Regions from separate parts of the Homo sapiens genome. Here region 2 is linked to region 1. Evidence: fine-mapped expression QTL. A gene starts in region 1. The other region holds a variant in brackets. All regions are shown on one strand. Distances are between the middles of the regions. Region 1 holds the start of TRIQK (triple QxxK/R motif containing). Region 2 overlaps TRIQK (triple QxxK/R motif containing).

Evidence for each region.
Region 2: its variant is fine-mapped to the expression of TRIQK in whole blood (TOPMed, PIP 0.97).

What each region holds. Positions count from the first base shown.
Region 1 is chr8:92,960,975-92,970,988 of GRCh38, reverse strand. It overlaps TRIQK (triple QxxK/R motif containing), which reads left to right and starts at 4,845. Exons shown (of 5, transcript NM_001171797.2): 1 at 4,845-4,982. RefSeq lists a silencer at 4,749-4,858 and an enhancer at 5,529-5,638.
Region 2 is chr8:92,891,309-92,901,322 of GRCh38, reverse strand. It overlaps TRIQK (triple QxxK/R motif containing), which reads left to right. Exons shown (of 5, transcript NM_001171797.2): 4 at 9,249-9,334. Among named protein-coding and RNA genes, the nearest start is that of TRIQK, 70 kb to the left of the region's middle. The variant C/T (reference allele first, on the strand shown) is at 5,637.

The DNA of each region.
Region 1 (10,014 bases):
CCGACCTTATACCTTATACAAAAAATAATTCAAGATGCATTAAAGACTTAAATGTAAAACCCAAAACTATAAAAACCCTAGAAGAAAATCTAGGCAGTACCATTCAGGACATAGACATGGGCAAAGATTTCATGACAAAAGATCAAAAGCAATTGCAACAAAAGCAAAAATTGAAAAATGAGACCTAATTAAACTAAAGAGCTTCTGCATAGCAAAAGAAACTATCATGAGTGAAAAGATAACCTACAGAATGGGAGACAATTTTTGCAGTCTATCCATCTGACAAAGGTCTAATATCTACAATCTACAGGGAACTTAAACAGATTTACAAGAGAAAAACAACCCCATTAAAAAGTGGGCAAAAGACACGAACAGGGACATCTCAAAAGAAGACATCTATGTGGCCAAGAAACATATGAAAAAAAGTTCAACATCACTGATCATTAGAGAAATGCAAACAAAACCTATAATGAGATACCATTTCACACCAGTCAGAATGGCAATTATTAAAAAGTCAAGAAACAACAGATGCTGGTGAGACTGTGGAGAAATAGGAACACTTTTACACTGTTGGTGGAAATGTAAATTAGTTCAACCATTGTGGAAGACAGTGTGGCAATTCCTTAAAGACCTAGAAGCAGAACTGCAGAACCACCATTCCACTCAGCAATCCCATTGCTTGGTATATACCCAAAGGAATACAAATCATTCTATTATAAAGATACATGCATGCGCATGTTCATTGCAGCACTATGCACCATAGCAAAGACATAGAATCAACCCAAATGCCCATCAATGATAGACTGGATAAAGAAAATGTGGTACATATACACCATGGAATACTATGCAGCCATAAAAAGGAATGAGATCATGTCCTTTGCAGGAACGTGAATGGAGCCAGAAGCCATTACCCTCGGCAAACTAATGTAAGAACAGAAAACCAAACACTGAATATTCTCACTTATAAGTGGGAGCTGAACAATGAGAACACATGGACACAGGGAGGGGAACAACATACACAGGGACCTGCTAGGGGAGGATTTGGAGAGGGAGAGCATCAGGATAAATAACTAATGCATGCTGGGCTTAATATCTAAGGGATGGGTTGATAGGTGCAGCAAACCAGCATGGCACAAGTTTACCTGTGTAACAAACCCACATATTCTGCAAATGTATCCTGGAACCTAAAATTTAAAAAAAATTAATTTTTTTTAAAAAAAGAAAATATAAACAAATGCACAAGCATAGTTGGAGATTTAACACCTTTCTTTCAATAAGTGATAGAATATGCTTAAAAATGTTGGTAAGGATCACTATGGCATATGTATACCTAAGTAACAAATCTGCACATTCTGCACATGTATCCTAGAACTTAAAGTAAAATGAAAAAATAAAATAAATAAATAAAATGTTTTTAAAAGCAAAAAAAAAAAACTGTCATAAGATATAGACTATAATCAACATTTAGAGCATACTGCATTCCATAATTTCAGAATACACATTTTTTTTCCAAATACACTGAGAACAGTCATAAAGATAAACCATATGTTGGGTTATAATATATGTGTCAATAATTTTCAATAAAATTTGAAATATTACAATATATATTTTCTAACTACAATGGAATTAAAAGTCAATAACTGTAAGATATTAGACAACTCTCAAATACTTGGAAACACAGAAACATAATTCTAAATATGTAACCAAAAAAGAGCCCATATAGCCAAGAAAATCCTAAGCAAAAAGAACAAAGAGGGGCATCATGTTACCTGACTTCAATCTATACTACAGTAACCAAAACAGCATGGTACTGGTACCAAAACAGATATATAGACCAGTGGAACAGAACTGAGGCCTCACAAATAACACCACACACCTACAACCATCTGATCTTTGACAAACCTGACAAAAACAAGCAATGGGGAAAGGATTCCCTATTTAATAAATGGTGTTGGGAAAACTGGCTAGCTATATGCAGGAAACTGAAACTGGACCCCTTCCTTATACCTTATATAAATATTAACTCAAGATGAATGAAAGACTTAAACGTAAGACCTAAAACCATAAAATCCCTAGAAGAAAACCTAGGCAATATCATTCGGGACATAAGCATGGGCAGAGACTTATAACTAAAATTCCAAAAGCAGTTGCAACAAAAGCCAAAATTGACAAATGGGATCTAATTAAACTGAAGAGCTTCTGTATAGCTGAAGAAATTATCATTAGAGTAAACAGGCAACCTACAGAATGGGAGAAACCTTTTGCAATCTATCCATCTGACAAAGGGCTAATATCCAGAATCTACAAGGAACTTAAACAAATTTACAAGAAAAAAACAAACAACCGCATCAAAAAGTGGGTGAAGGATATGAACAGACACTTTTCAAAAGAATACATTTATGCGTCCAATAAGCATATAAAAAAAGCTCATTATCACTGGTCATTACAGAAATGCAAATCAAAACCACAATGAGATACCATCTCATGCTAGTTAGAATGGTGATCATTAAAAAGGCAGGAAACAACAGATGCTGGAGAGGATGTGGAGAAATAGGAATGCTTTTACACTGTTGGTGGGAGTGTCAATTAGTTCAACCATTGTAGAAGACAGTGTGGTGATTCCTCAAGGATCTAGAACCAGAAACGCCATTTGACCCAGGAATTCCATTACTGGGTATATGCCCAAAGGATTATAAATCATGCTACTATAAAGACACATGCCAACGTATGTTTATTGCAGCACTATTCACAATAGCAAAGACTTGGAACCAACCCAAATGCCCATCAATAATAGACTGGATAAAGAAAATGTGGCACATATACACCATAGAATACTATGCAGCCAATTATATTTCAATTTGCTAGAAATGTAAGTCAATAATATATGTCTTTATATGGTAAAGAAATAAGCATATAACATACATCTGGAAGTTTTAATTTTACATTAAGCTATTTACTTCTTGTTGTATAATATCTTACATATGTGAGAATATTCAATGCATTTGCTGTACAAATGCATTGCTGTACATCTTTATGTAATGAAAATGGACTCAAGTACATTCACCACTTTTATTTAAATCTTACAGCATTTATTTATATATTTATTAATATATAATCATAACTCTTTCTTTTTAGTCTAAAACTAATTTTTTTTTTTTTTTTTTTTTGAGATGGAGTCCCACTCAGTTGCCCAGGCTGGAGTGCAATGATGCAATCTCGGCTCACTGCAACCTCTGCCTCCCGGGCTCAAGCAATTCTCCTGCCTCAGGCTCCTGAGTAGCTGGGATTACAGGTGCCTGCCACCATGCCTGCCTAATTTTTGTATTTTTAGTAGAGACGGGGTTTCACCATGTTGGCCAGGCTGGTCTGGAACTCCTGACCTCAGGCAATCCGTCCACCTCAGCTTCCCAAAGTGCTGGGATTACAGGCATGAACCACCACACCTGGCCAAACCAAATATTTTTAAAAGATTAAAGAAAATGGGGACTCTGAGTCATACAAATCAAGAAAGTTTTATAGAGAGTTATTCACATTTAGCAAGCTTTCAGAAGAATTTGGATATTCAGCAGGTCAAGAGTGTAAAATTATTTGTAATTGGAATGGGTTTCTTTTATTCCAACAATTGCATCACAGTACGATGAACATTTTAATTGAATCTCAAGGCACTTGTCCAGAGGTACTCTTTTTTTTTTTCTTTTTTCTTACTACAACCGTATCTATCAGACAAGATAAACCCTTCTGGGTTTTGGTTTAATATGGAAGGAAAAAGAGTTTCACTATTTTAAAGCCACACACATAAGTAATCTGGTTAAGTGTATTAATATAATCTCATTTAACTCTACCTTTATTTCTGGGAGAGGAACTGGAGACCAGAAAATGATTTAGGAGGACGGAAAATAAAATTACATTTTGGATTCAATTCCTGGCCATAATATTCTGTGAGATTTCAGAAAGCCTTCTGGTTAGTCTATTTATACTTGTCTCAGTTTTTTTTTTTTTTTTTTTTTTGTATGCTACTTTCTTTCTCAAGGGCTTTTGGAAAAAGATATGATGGGGCTGGCCTAGAGGAAGGTGACTTTTATGTGAGCAAGAGAAAAATTAAATTGGAGGTTGCATAATTTTTTGAAGGAATTTTAGATTTAGTTCACCACAATATTAAAAAATGATGGCTGCAGGCACTTAGATTTGTTGAATGGTTGAATAAATCTAGCCTTTCCTAGCCTGTGTTTCATTGTCCATAGGCTGTGGATAATACTCTTAGTGGGTTTTGTAAGGATTACATGAGTATAATTTATAAAGCATTTAATATTTGAATACTTTTCCAATAAGTAACATCTTAATATTTCATTCCCATTTTGTAGATGTGAAAATTGAGTACCCGAACATAGGCTCCTAAATCCTAATTGTCAGTCACGTTTTTGCAATCTTTCCTAAATTTATTAATCTCTGGTTAATGTTAATATAAAACGATTTTTTTTTCTTTTTTGCTGTTTGAATGGGCAATTAATTGATTGTTTACACAGACAGTGCGCCCTTCCACTTAGGGACGCTCCTTAGGGATGATCCTGTGAATTGGGGAGTGTGTGTGTGTGAGATGGGAGGGTTCAATAATCAAAATAACATATTTTTCCGTTTTATATTAACTAAACAAGTCACAGTCTTTATTTTTAATTTCTACAGTCACCTCGTGAGACAGGTATTAGAACTCCGGAGTGGCATCAAAATGAGGGAAAGGCCTCAGGGCCAGCGCCTTTGCGTCCTGGACCGGCGTACAGACGGGAGAAAGGCCGACCAATCCGAGAGCAGGCTGAGGCCTGGTCCCGCCCCTGGGGGCAGAGCCTCGCCTCTTTTCCGCCTCACCCTTTGGGAGTAGGGGTGTGCGGCTGGCTTGTCCCGCCCCTGCCCCTGAGTGACAGAACCGTGGACAGCAACATTTCCCACAGGACACGAAGTTTGTCGGCCCTTGCCTTGGCAGAGCTGAGGTGTGTGTCCGGCGAGTGCGAGGGGATTGGGGAGACCCTGCCCGGGAAGCTCGGGGTCCGGGAATGAAAGCGGGCGCACCTCTTTAGCGAGCCCTAAAGCGTTTGGGAGACGATCGTTCCGTCCCTGGGAGCGGCACTTGGTGGGGCTGGGCGGAGGGAGGCTCTGCAAGAGAAACCCGGAGTCCGGGAAACCCAGTAGGTACGGTGATCACTGAAGGACCCGTTCCCGTTGAGTAGGGCGCTGGCTGCGGGATGGGGGATGGAGGGTGCTGGGTTCGGTGGGCGTGGCCATTGCGGTTGCTAAGGAACGCGCGGTTCCCGCCCTGCCAGCGTGTCTGGCGCCAGCCGCTGGGCCCTGGACACGTTAGTCCCGCCCACCTCCCAAGGTCTTCCACGCGGCTCGGGATTGGCTCCTTTGTGCTGACCGATTACTCGCGGTCGCTTACTTGTCAGTGCAGCTCTCTGGGTTCTGCCGTTCCCTTTTGGGGCCCCCTTTCCCATGGTACTCCTCTTCACTCTTTTTCCTGCTTCCTCTTATTAATGAACGAGTATTTGCATACCAAAACATTTGCAGAGAAGAGATTCAGACAGGATTAGGTGGCTTTATCGGTGGTGGTGAGGTTGTGGGGCGGGGGTATTTTTCTTGGAGCTTGGTGTATTCCTGAATCCATCAGATGTTGGTGTCCGCGTGGATGACTAGGAAAAGGGGATTGGAGATTAGGTTTCTTCTACTTGGAGTTCTCTGCTGCTTGTTTGAGCTTAATAAGCCTCCTGAAGAAGTTGAAGCAATTTATTGCTAGAGGAGCCCCAATGTATAATCTCCCTTTCATTCTCTACTGTGGAGAGGTGTGCTAAACCTGTAGAGCTGTTTTTGCTTCACTCGGCTCATACTTAATGATCAACAAGTATGGTGTGAGATGGTAACCTCAGATAACCATTTTAAATCTGCCTTTGTTTGCTCATATACTCTGTCTCCTAATGATTCAGCACAACAAACATTCCAGAGAGAAAAAACAAAAGAGGTAAAAATCTTTTATTTTCCTCTGGCAGGTTTACAGTGCAAACCCCCAGGAAGGAAGCTTGTGCTGCTTGTTAACATTGGGAGGAGCATTGGCCTACAAGTCAGGAAACTGGCATGGTTAAGAAATGTTTGTCCTTGGGCAATAATTGTTTCGTTATCTGTAAATTGGAGACTCTAGGATATGCCCTTCCTTCCTAAAAAAGGAGGAATAATTGGTTGTGAAAGTATCATTAAAGTAATGATCCACACAAATGTAAAGCATTATTGATTACACTTTTAATCTTTTTGTGTATATGATCCAAATTTATAAACACGTATAAGTATTGCCATTCAGCTTTAAGTATTTTCAAATTTCCCTTGTGATTTTTTTTTTTTTTAATCTTAGGGTTATTTAGAAATGGGGAAGAAATTAACTCATCTATTCATTATTGATTCTGTGTTGGTTCTGGTTAGGTAGAACCTGTAATGTCTTGAATGACACCTTTTCCTCTTTAATATCACTAGATATATATATATATATAGATATATATATATACCTGAAAAGATTGGGAAACATTACCTTTTAATGCGAGGATGACTAACCTTTTTGGTGTCATTTACCACTTTGAGAAACCAAGGAAAGCTATTGACTTGCTCCTCAGAAAAATGCACAATTTTAAGCCTAAATGGACCCTGTTTTTGTTCAACTTCTTTAGGGATAAGGAAATTATTCTCTCCCACTTGCCTCATCCTACAGAGAGACTAAGTAACTTTTACCCAAGGCTACATAGCTGGGAGCAGAGTGGGGCTTTTGCCTTTCTTCCACAGTGCCTCTTACCATAACATACCTTTGTTCAAGGCCTTCAGTCATCTGCAGTTCCCTTTTGGGGCCCCCTTTCCCATTGTACTTTTTTGTTTTTTTGAGCACTAACAAACGGGAACTACTAATGTTCAGTTATTTGTTGCTATCTTACAAAACCATGTAATCTATGTTTTATCCCAAATGCCCTTTGATCATAACCTCTTAAAGCATATTCTGGTATTTAAACAAGTAAAAAGAACATTGTCAAATATTTTGAGAAAAATGTGAAACTGTATTTTTTTTTTTTTTTTGAGACGGAGTTTCACTCTTGTTGCCCAGGCTGGAGTGCAATGGCGCTATCTCAGCTCACCACAACCTCTGCCTTCCTGGTTCAAGCAATTCTCCTGCCTCAGCCTCCCGAGTAGCTGGGATTACAGGAGTGCACCACCACACCTGGCTAATTTTGTATTTTTAGTACAGACGGGGTTTCTTCATGTTGGTCAGGCTGGTCTCGAACTCCCAACCTCAGGTGATCCGCCCGCCTCGGCCTCCCAAAGTGTTGAGATTACAGGGGTGAGCCACCGCGTCTGGCCAAAATTGTACTTTTGAGATGAACATTAAATCCATAAACTTTCTCATCTATCGAGGTCCGTTTTGGACAAAGAAAAGCTGATTATTTTTAGTACATGCCACTGGAATATCATTACTTGATACTTAGAACTGTTTTTTTTTTTTTAAACTTAAGTGAATAATCTTTTATAACATTTTAATTTGTGGCTAAAAAGAATTGTGGTTGTTTTCACTGTGGCTCTTTTCCTGATTTCTATATTCATATAGAAATCTGTAAATAGAGTTCATTATTTTCTTTGGTCTGATTCCCTATCTAGCTTTATCAATAAAAGTGGATATCAGTAGTAGATATAAAAAGTTGTTATTGGATAAGGAAAAACTTGAAGAGGTAAAGAGCTATTGCTTTTGTAAAACGCATAAATGTATATATGCACCTGTTATTTCGTTAGTACTTGTAATTTTATTTGAACTGTTTGGTACTTGACTCTTTCTTTATTCAACTCTGTTCATTTCTGGTAGAGAAACAGGGATAAAGACAAATGGCTTAGAGAGAGCATTACAATGGATTTAGAGATTTTTAGGGGCTCAATAATAGCTCTTTCCTTCCTCTCTTGCGTTTGTAAACAGACATGTGGCGCCTGCCATATCAACTTCAACTTGCAATAACAAGTCGAGTGGGGATAGTGCTTTATGCAAAAATGAGACCAAAAATGAGTACTAGTACTTCCTATCCCCTTTTACTCCTACTCTCTTTCCCAGAACCTAGACTTTAGTTCAGCTGAGAGAAAAATTTCAGATTGCGGAACAGATACGCTTACTTACAATTACTGCTTTTCATGGTGTAGGGCAGAGGTCTAATAAAAGATGGAAAATCTCCAGTGCTTAGTGGTTTATAATGGGTTAGCTCTACCGGTGGAGTAATGTGAACCGGTCAGATACGTCTCTTTTTGGTAAGCTGTGAAGAAGAAGTGGGATCTGAGGCCAGGACTGTTAATCTAGTGCTCTGGTTTTCCATTTCCAGAATGGTTTTCCATTCTGGGTGACACCTCTGGGGTATTTGAAATATGCCAGGGTGTTTTAAAATTATTCTAATTTCTTTAAAGGAAGTACTACTGGCTTTTGGGATCCTGAAGTTCAGAGATGATAAATATTGTGTAATGTAGAGATCTATCAGCTCAATAAAGAATTTCTTTGTCTCACTCCAATGCCAAAGCATCTTTTGAGAGTCCCTGCTCCAGTGGACATTCTTCTATGTAGAAACGCGAAACTCAGCCAGCTTTCTCCTTAATCTTTGTGCATATGTATCTGTGTTTTTGATATCAGTAGATTTGACTCAAAGTGTTAATGTCTTAAACAATATTACTTAGAATTTTGTGGTTTTTTGGTATTCATCCAGAGTGACTAAAATAATACTAATGGAAAATAGTGATACATATTTGATCATATTTGATATTCTCAAATTTCCTATTAAACAGATAAGGATCATGTAGGCCTAGAGCTAATTTTTCATACCATTATATATATTTATACCTTTTTTATATGGTAGAAATGTTCAGCATCTTTGCAACAATAGAGTGAGATAGGTGTATGTTTCCATGAAAAATAAATGATTCCTACTTAATTCGTAATTTTGAAATGTTAAACAATAAAAAGGTAAATACTCCATATTCAGTGGTTTAACAGTTTTTTTGACTCAAAAGGCAAAGACAGTTCCATTAATGAAAGACTCTTGTCAGTCACATGACTTTTAAGCCACTGAAGTGGAGAATGACAACAGCATAAACTAGCTTAGTTCTTCTGTAGTAGTATTATTTAGTGACGTAGTTGCAAAAATAACAGACCAATTGTATTGAACAATTTAAAAGTTTGACAATGACAAAAGAAAGATAGGTTAATCCAAATAACATTTGTTTTACATACTTTGAATGTTAAAATATTCAAATATTGCAGGGTATGGAATAATGAACTATATGGATACCTGTGGCAAAGTCCTAATTGTGGATTATAGTTTATTACCTATAGCAGGTGGAAGGTGCACTGTATTGAAAGTTTTAGACTTAGCTCTGTAGGTAGAAATATCCTTTGTTGGGTATTAATAACTTTCCAGTCAAGTTAATTATCTATGTGGAAAAGGTTGAAGATTTTTCTTTTTTTTGAACAACATGCTTGAGCATTATAATACGTTGCCGTCATTCACAGTGACTCAGTATATAGTACTGAATCTCTCTGGGCAGAGGAGGTATATCAGATTTTTTTTTTCAGGATGGGAAGGTACAGTTTTAAAAAGAACCTCCCAGTTTCCGATTCTGCTTTGTCTGCATTCCTAGGGAGTTCATTTTCTGCCTCCCCTCAACACCGTCCCCTTTATCGATAAATGGAAAACACTGGCTTATGTAGAAATTATCTATACAGTTTTTTCAGTGCTAAAATATTCTGGATAAATTAACATTTGAAAATAAATCAAGTGAAACAAGACATCCTACAAAATCAAGGCAGAGGTTATCAGTAGAAAACTCAGAGGCATACCTATGAATCTCTAAAAATAATTTTAAGCTAAGGAAGGAAGAACATTTCGGGGAGTTATTTGCCGTCCAACACATTCAAGAATACATGGCTTCTATGGATAGGAGAACTTCATGTAAAAATAACAGACAGTGATG
Region 2 (10,014 bases), 70 kb after region 1:
GGAACAAGACAAGACTGCTCACTTTCCACCCCCGTTATTCAACATGGTACTGGAAGTCATAGCTAGAGCAATCAGACAAAAGAAAGAAAGGACATCCAAATTGGAAAGGAAGAAATCAAATTATCCTTGTTTGCAGATGATATGGTCTTATATTTGGAAAAAACAAAAGACTTTATGAGAAACTATTAAAATTAATAAGCAATTTCAGTATAGTTGCTGGAGTTGATTTTTGTACAAAATCAACCTACAAAAATCAGTAGGATTTCCATATGACAATAGCAAAGAGTCTGAAAAAAAATCAAGAAAGTAATCCCATTTGCAATAGCTGCAAATAAAACAAAACACCTAGGAATAAACTTAAGCAAATAAGTTAAAGATTTCTATAATGAAAACTATAAAACAATGATAAAAATTTGAAGAGAACACAAAAAAATGGGAAAATATTCCATGTTCATGGATTGGAAAAATCAATATTGCTAAATTGTTTATCCTACCCAGAGCAAACTATAAATTCAATGCAATCTCTATCAAAATACCAATGAAATTCTTTACAGAAATAGAAAAAGTAATCCTAACATTTATATTAAACCAAAAAAGCCTCAGAATTGCAAAAGCCATCCTGAGCAAAAAGAACAAAACTGGAAGAATCACATTAACTGACTTCAAATTATACTGCAGAACTGTAGTAACCAAAACAGCATGGTACTCACATAAAACCAGACACATACACCAATGGAATAGAATAGAGAACTCAGAAACAAATTCTTACATCTACAGTGAGCTCATTTTTGATAAAGGTGCTAAGAACATACATTAAGATATGGACAGTCTCTTCAAAAAATGGTACTGTGGAAACTGGATATCTATATTCAGAAGACTGCAACTAGAACCCTATCTTTTACCATATACAAAAATCAAATCAAAATGCATTAGACTTAAACCTCAAACTATGAAACTACTAAAGGAAATCATTGGGGAAACTCTCCAGGAAATTGGATTGGGTAAAGATTTCTTGAATCATAGTTCACAAGCTCAGACAACCAAAGCAAAAATGGAGAAGTGGGATTACATCATATTAAAAAGCTCCTGAACAGCAAAGGAAACCATCAGTAAAGTGAAAGGGACAACCCACAGAATGGGAGAAAATATTTGCAAACTATCTAACAAAGGATTAATAACTGGAATACATGAAGAGCTCAGACAACCCAATAGGAAAAAATTTAATAATCTGAGTTTTGAATGGGCAAAATATCTGAATAGGCATTTCTCAAAAGGAGCATACAAGTAGCAAACAGGTGTATGAAAACATGCTCAAAATCATTAATCATTAGAGAAATGAAAATCAAAAATACAATGAAATATCATCTCACCTCAGTTAAAAATGGCTTTTATCCAAAAGGTGCAAGAACGAATGCTGGTGAGGATGTGGAGGAAAGGAAACCCTCATACACTGTTGGTGGGAATGTAAATTAGTACAACCACTATTGAAAACGGTTTGGAGGTTCCCCCAAAAACCTAAAAATAGAGCTACCAGATGATCCAGCAACCCTACTGCTAAGTATATATGCAAAAGAAAGGAAATCAGGATACCAAAAAGATATCTACACTCCTACGTTTATTGCAGCACTATTCACAGTAGCCAAGATTCAGAAGCAACCTAAGTGTCCATCAATAGATGAATGGCTATAGAAAGTGTTACTTATACACAATGAAGTACTGTTCATCCATGAAAAAAGAATGAGATCCTGTCATTTGCGACAACATGGATGTAACTGGAGGTCATTATGTCAAGTGAAATAAGCCAGGTACAGAAAGAAAAAGTGGGCATCTTCTCACTTATTTGTGGGAGCTAAAAAAATTTAAACAATTGAACTCATGGAAATAGAGAATAAAAGGATGGTAACCAGAGACTGGGAAGAGTATTGGGGAGGGGGTGGAAGGAGTGGGAATGGTTAATGGGCACAGAAATATAGTTAGTAAGAATGAATAAGATCTAGTATTTGATAAAACTTATTGTACATTTAAAAATAATGAAAAAGGCCAAGTGCAGTGGCTCATGCCTGTAATCCCAGGTGTGATTTGGGAGGCTAAGGTGGGCAGATCACGAGGTCAAGAGATTGAGACCATCCTGGCTAACATGGTGAAACCCCATCTCTACTAAAAATACAAAAATTAGCTGGCCATGGTGTCATGTGCCTGTAAACCCAGTTACTTGGGAGGCTGAGGCAGGAGAATCAGAGGAGTCAGAGGTTACAATGAGACGAGATTGTGCCACTGCACTCTGGCCTGATGACAGAGTGAGACTCCAGAAAAAAAAAAAAAAGTAGTATAATCAGATTGTTTGCAACACAAAGAAAGGAAAATTCTGGAGGAGATAGATACCGCATTTACCCTGATGTGATTATCATGCATTATATGCTTGTATCAAAATAGCTCATGTACCCCCATCTATATATATATATATATATATATATATATATATATATATACACACACACACCTATTATGTACCTGCAAAAATTAAGTAAAAAACAAAAAGAGAATTTGAAACATTCAGCCTGAAATAACTGATAGATTACCAACACTGAGCTTTTAAGCAGCAACCTCTGTTTGACTCAGCCATTGTATCCTATTTTATGGTTATAAAAATTGTAAATGAATGAAAATTAATGTAAAAATCCAACATACTAACTTTAAATGTGATGATAGTAAAATTAAAGCTATGGAGGAGAAGTACTTCTTGAGTGGAAAGTAAAAACCTCTGAAAATCTGCTTTTATATAAAGCCAGTGAGAACACTGGTGAAAACTATCAAAATCAATGTTTTCCAGAAACCTGAAAATTAACTAAAATCTTAAAACCATCTAAGGAGTGTTTATTTCAGAAAAACAGGTGAATCTCAGTAATATCTGCAATCTTTGTGGTGTTTTAACTTGCCTTAATGCCATTTTCTTTTCTTTAGCCTTTCAACTACAGTAGTTACGGAAAACGTTAGCGTAGCAGCCACTGGAGAAGGCAAAATTCATTTGGAGATATGCAAAGCCCCCATCCTCAAGACTTGTCACAATTTGACCAGTCTGGAAACTCACTGAAAAGCCCCTTTCTCAAAACTTGTCTTTATTTGACTTTACTTAGAGCTAACTCTGTGTGAAGAGCCCTTTCTCTGTGGCATTTGACAAAAACAATGAACAACAAGTGTTTAACATTGTAGTTGCCTGAAGCATCATTACTAGTGGGGTTAAACATGAGACTGACCAAAGAATAAAAGCAAAAACAGGGGAACAACATGCCCATAGAATTTTTTAAAAGGTCTGACAGATTCCTGAGAATCTAGAAGGTCATGTGCACGAGCAGGGCTATATCATGCCCATTAAAGATGTGAGGAACCTATAATCTCTTACCTCTTGGTGGACTTAAGGCTCTTCACAAGCAGAAGTGAAGGCTAAGGCATAACTATAAACCTCTGTTGTAGCATGGAGATGTACCCCAACACAAAAACATACACATATACCTGCATGCACATATACAGACACACACACAAATAGTCACATAGCTCCTCAGCAAAATTAAGAGACTTAGTGGTTCAAAGCATTTAAGGAAATATCTGTCCAGTCATTACATGATGTCTTAGTCCATTTGGTGCTGCTATAACAGAATACCTGAGACTGGGTAATTTATAAAGAAAAGAAATCTATTTTTTAAAGTTCTGGAGTCTGGAAAGTCAAAGGTCAACGCATCATCCTAATGGGGAAGAATAAAGGACAAAAGAGCACATACAAGAAAGCAAGAGGAAAGGGACCAAGCTCATTCTTTTATCATGAGCCCACTCCTGTGATAACTAATTCATTCATGAGGGCAGAGCCCTTATGACCTAATAATCTCTTAAAAGTCCCACCTCTCAATGTTGTTGAATTGGAGATTAAGTTTCCAAAACATGAACTTTTCAGGACACATTCAAATTATAGCATTCTAGCCCTGGCCTTCAAAGTTCATGTCCTTCTTACAATGCAAAATACATTCATTCCATCTCAATAGTCCCAAAAGTCTTACCTCCTTCCAGTATCGACTCAAAATTTCAAAATCCAAAGTCTCATTTAAAATCACATGTGGGTAAGACTCAAGGCATCATTCGTCTCGAGGCAAATTCCTCTCCATCTGTGAGCCTGTGAAATTAATCAAATTATCTACTTCCAAAGTACAATGCTGGGGCCTGGCATGGTGGCTCATGCCTGTAATCCCAGCACTTTGGGACGCCGAGGTGGGTGGATCACCTGAGGTCAGGAGTTCAAGACCAGCATGGCCAGTATTGCGAAACCCCATCTCTACTAAAAATACAAAAATTAGCCAGGCGTGGTGGTGCATGCCTGTAATCCCAGCTACTTGGGAGGCTGAGGCAGGAGAATCACTTGAACCTGGGAGGCAGAGGTTGCAGTGAGCCAGGATCATGCCATTGCACTCCAGCCTGGGAGACAGGAGTGAAACAACATCTAAAAAAAAAAAAAAGAAAGAAAAAGAAAATGCAATGTTGACACAAGCCTACCACAGACATTCCCATTCCAAAAGGGAGAATTAGGCAAGAAAAAAGTAGTAACAGATTCCAAGCAAGTCCAAAACCCAACAGGGAAAACAACATTAAATCTTAAAGCTGGACATAATATCCTTTGACTCCATGTCCCACATCCTGGTCACATTGGGGCAGGCATTGGGCCCCTAAGGCCTCAGGCAACCCTCCCCATATGGCTTTGTTGGGTTCAAACCACCCAGCAGCTCTCACAGGTTGGAGTCTCTTGACTGGTTCTTTCCCAGACTGTAATTGCACACTGGTAGCTCTATAATTCTTGAGTCTCTGAGGTGGCTTTTCTCCTGTGGCTTCACTAGGCATTGCCCTAGTCAGGGCTCTCTGCAGTGGCTTCATCCCTGCAACAAGTTTCTGCCTGGGTCCCCAGGCTGTCCAGAACATCTTTTGAAGTCTAGTTGGGGGCCTCCATGGCCCCACAGCTCATGAAATCAGTAAGTCTGCAGAATCAGCACTACATGAACCCTGCTAAGACTTATCCCTTGTGTCCCCGGAGCTGCAGCACAAACTTCACCTGGGCCTGCTTAAGCCACAGCTGGCATGGCTGAGGGGTGCTGTGCTGGAATGTGAGAAACAGAGTCCCAAGGCAACTCCAGGCAGTGAATACAGAGGTCCCCTGGAAGCCTCTCTGGAGATGTTGCCCTTAAGATCTTCTGGATCTATTTTGGGAGGGGCATTCTCAGAGATCTCTGAAATGTCTTTGAGGTCTTTCTCTCATTGTCCTGATGAATAGCACCTGGTCCCCTTCTCTCCCTAGTAATCTCTTTAGCAAAGGGTTGCTTGGTCACACCTTTAGTATTCTCTCCTCAGCACACTTTTTTTTTATTCTTTACATGGCCAGGCTGAGAGTTTTATAAATCTTTTCCTCCTGTTTCTCTTTTAATTGTAAATTTTACCTTTTAGTCATTTCTTTTTTTGCACATCTCACTATATGAGGTAAAAGGCAGTCATACAACTCCTTCAGTAATTTGCTTAGAAATTTATTCTGGCAGATACTTTAGTCCATTGCTTGTACATTCTGTCTTCCATATAAAGTATTTGACATGGAAGCAATTCAGCCA[C/T]GTTCTTTGCCAATTTATAACAAGGATAGCCTTTACTCCAGGTCCCAATAAGATGTCTCCCATTTCCATCTGAGACCTCATCAAAATGGCCTTTACTTTTCATGTTTCTACAAACATTCTGATTATGACTACTCAAATAATCCCTAAGAAGATTCAGACTTTCCTTACATCTCACCATTTCTTCTGAGCACCCCCCAGAATCACCTTTAATGCTTCCTTCATGGCAATACAGGGTTTTTCTAGCCTGCTCTTTCAAATTCATCCAGCCCCTCCCCATTGCACATTTCCAAAGCCACTTCCACATTTCCAGGTGTTTGTTATAGCAGCACCCCTACTTCTTGGTACCAGTTTTCTGTCTTAGTCTATTTGGTGCTGCTATAACAAAACCTTTGAGATTAGAAAATGTGTAAAGAACAGATATTTATTTCTTATGATTGTGGAGACTGGGAAGTCTAAGCTGGAGGGGCCTGCCTCTGGCAAGGGCCTTGTGAATGCATTATCCCATGGTGGAAGGCAGAAGGGCCAAAGAGCATGCACAAGAGAGAATGAGGAAGTAAACTGAATTTATCTTTGTATTATGAACTAACTTCTATGATAACTAACCCACTCTCACAATAATGGCATTAAGTTATTCATGAGGGCAGAGTCCTTATGATCCACTCTCCTCTTACAGATCCCACCTCTCAAAACTGTTGCACTGGAAATTAAGTTTCCAACATGAATTTTGGGGGACACATTAAACCACAGCAGATGACCAATAAGGTAACTGTGCAGAGACTTCAGTGACCATATACTATTGAATACAGTCTCTATAGAATTAGTTCAGTAAAGTTACTAAACAAAGGGATTCTAACAACAACAACAAAGAGCAAATAACAGTAACAACAAACCTCAGGGACGATCTAGTTTGCAGAGTTTCCACATTACATTATCAAATATGTTTGATTTTCAATTTAAAATTATGAAACACATAAAGAACTAATAGGTTAGTTCATACACAGAAAAATGCAGTAGAACCTGTTCCTAAGGAAGCTCAGACATTGGGCTTGATTGAGGCCCCAGATTGGCTTCATAGGCTTGAATTACCAAGTTTTTCTCTCCACATAAGATTTAATGAGCAACTGTCAAATAGCTACTTTGGTTATTGCATCACTGATACAACCAAAATCAGAATCAGTTGTGTTCAAGAAACAGTCTACATATAAAATCTAGATTATGTAACTGTGTTTTTTTTTTCCCTTAGGTGTAAGTACGCAGAAGTCAGGGACTTCTATATTTTATATTTTTTACAATCATGTGGGCATAGGTATCTTTCTTGAAGCCATAAATATTTAAATGTTGAAAACCTCTTTGGGTACAATGGAATGATCTGGCTTTAGTTATAAAGAACCTACCAGACACTCCTGTAAATGTTGTCACTTAGTAAACTAAAACCACATTTTGCAATATACACTTTTGGATATCATAGTCGACAAGGAGAATGCTAAATTTATGACAGATGCACTGCTTGGAAAAGTACCAGGTATACAATAACTTTTAATACTGTCTTTTTATTATAAATACAGTTTCAAATGTTAATATCAACTTGAATACAAATCTGGAAGTATTATTCTCTAAGAATATGAGAGTTGAATTGAAATAGAATACATTATTTAACCAATGGTTATATGGCAGTTGAAGTAGAGTGAAAAATTCTCATTTTAGTATTGACTCTTAGATATTTGCATGTGTTTTATGACAGATACATTATCCAAAATATTTCATATCTGTATAAAAAATATGAATTAAGATAATCCTCTTGCATCTGTTTATTCCTGCTGCTCACCCCCCACCCCCCGCCATAGCATCAAGAGATTATTATAGGGCATATACAGGATAAAACAAGAAGTTACTTTGTGATAAATCTACAATCTTCAAATATCTTTCAGAATTCTTGTTAGAAACTTGCTTGGTAACCCTGACCGGAGGCCTTTGATGTGTCACCATTTTCATTGTTCTGAACTGTTTATAGCTCAGCAGGAATAATGACATGAATAGTTTGACTGTAGAGATGTGAAATTAGAGTGAACACTTGTCAAGATTTTTTTCATCAGAATTAAATATTGCTAATTTAAAATGGGTCAGAGTAACATTTTTCTCATGTATTTTGTTCATTCCATTATTTAAATTTAGATCATTTGATACATATTATGACAATTGTCTCATTTCTAGATCATCAGACCCCATCATCAAATAATATTTATTAAGCTTCTGCATGCTCATTGATCCAGAGTTATTGCTATACAATAGCAGTTAAGGAAAGAGAAGACAATCCTTTAAAAACAAAATACCTTGCTTTCCAGCCAAACAAACACTTTTATGTGTCTAATGGACATAAATATAATGTTTCTTCACTACGCCCATCCATTTGACTACCATTTCTAGTTCTAAAACTCTGTATGAAATTTTAAAGATACTTTTGAATCATTAGCAGACACATTAAGATATATTGCACATTAAATTTTTATGATATACTTGAGTTTAGACCAATTGCTTTTCAATTTATTTCAATGTGAAGAAGATGTGGAAATTAATGTTAGAATTTGTATTATTTAGATGAAGGGAATGTAGCGATGAGTTTTGTAAAGGAACTGGTCATCGAAAGGAAGGGGAAAAGATGAAAATAAAACAAAATAAGAATATAAAATAGCCAGAGAGATTATACGATCATGTATTAACTCCTCCTGAGAATAAAATATTATATTGTTATGTTTGAGGCTCATTTTGACTCAGTTCCTAGTTAAGAGTTGGCTAACAAAAAGTATATCATTGTAATGAATGCTTTCACTGTTCTTGTTCTTGTTGTTAAACCTATATTCTCCCCAGGCTGTGTAATCCACTTTTGTTACTCTTTGCTGGAGTCACTAGATGATACACAAAGGAAATTTTGTGGCACTAACTCAGTTTCGCACATTTTTGGCTATGAAATGTGGAAGAAATTATTGAAACTAATATCTAAATGTAGCTATTCTATAACTTCTATCTAGCCATGTTAATTTTGTTCTCTATTAAGAGGAAATAAAAGAGGAAATAAAAGAAATATTTTTCTAATGAATTCAGGGTGGGGCTAAAAGTTAAATATTTATAGATTTCTTCTTTAGTCTTTTACTTAAAGGAAACTTGGGGATATTTCTCACTTATGTTTTGAATGCTTAACGTATCCATAATAAAATACATTTATAATTAGCTGTTACTCTTAGGAAGACAAAGTTAACTTTAGCTGTTAATAGGATCTTACATATACTCATTTACTTATGCATCTGTTTCCAAATGCTTCCAAAAGTTTTATTTTCTTTACTTTAAATTTTGTGTTCTCTAAAACAAGTTTTTATCTTTTTTGACATTCACTATACAGCAAATTGAAGATGTCCGTCAGTATCCTCTTCCTGAAAAAGTAAGAGAGAAGGAAAAGTTGACCTTTTGGTGACAAGTTTATGGTTACCACAACTGGGAACTACTTTGCAACTCCGTGTCCCTGTTTCACTGTATTTAAACATTCTTTGACATTTCAAATGATTGTTAAACTTAATTATATATGAGCATAACTCATTGTCTGAAACTATTTCTTTCTAGGTAAACAGGATTATAAAAAAACTAAACCTATTTTACGAGCAACCAAATTAAAAGCAGAAGCAAAGAAAACAGCAATAGGCATAAAGGTAAACCTCTATTTGATAACTTTAAAATTTGATATGTGCATGCCATTTCATTTTCTAAAACTGGATTGCATAAATGTTGAATTCTAAATGTTTTATGACATTTCACAATCTAAATAGAATGCCAGACTTAAAGGTTTTTGTAAAGAATTTACTTAATGGAAAACATCCTTCCTATTCTGAGATTTTGAAGGGTCTTAAAACAGTGTCACTTAAGAGAATCAGTTATACTTAAAGGTGCAATTTATTTTCTCTCTAGCTACTATGTGTATTATTCAGACATTTCAGTGATATATGTGGCCTTCGTCAGAAATTTCTTTCGTTTTTCAATAAATCTCATTTTATAGTTGTTTAAATTGTAGTTGTAATTATATATACTGAGATCATTAATTATGTAATTTTACTCTGCTTATCTTATTGTTGTCAGTACTCTCTGATGAAATTATAATGACATTCCTAAACTTGTTCTTTCAGAATACCAGTGTTTTATCTGCTTAAGAGGGATAAATGCAACTGAGAATGATGTTAGCAGATATTAATTTAATGTGCTAACACAATGAAGCTCAACAAATTGCATTTACATTATTGCCCATGTCAATCTTTTGCCAGGTATTTAGAGTTGAATTAAACTATTAATAGAAGAATTAATTTGGCAACTCTACTATCAAAGGTGTAAAATAAAA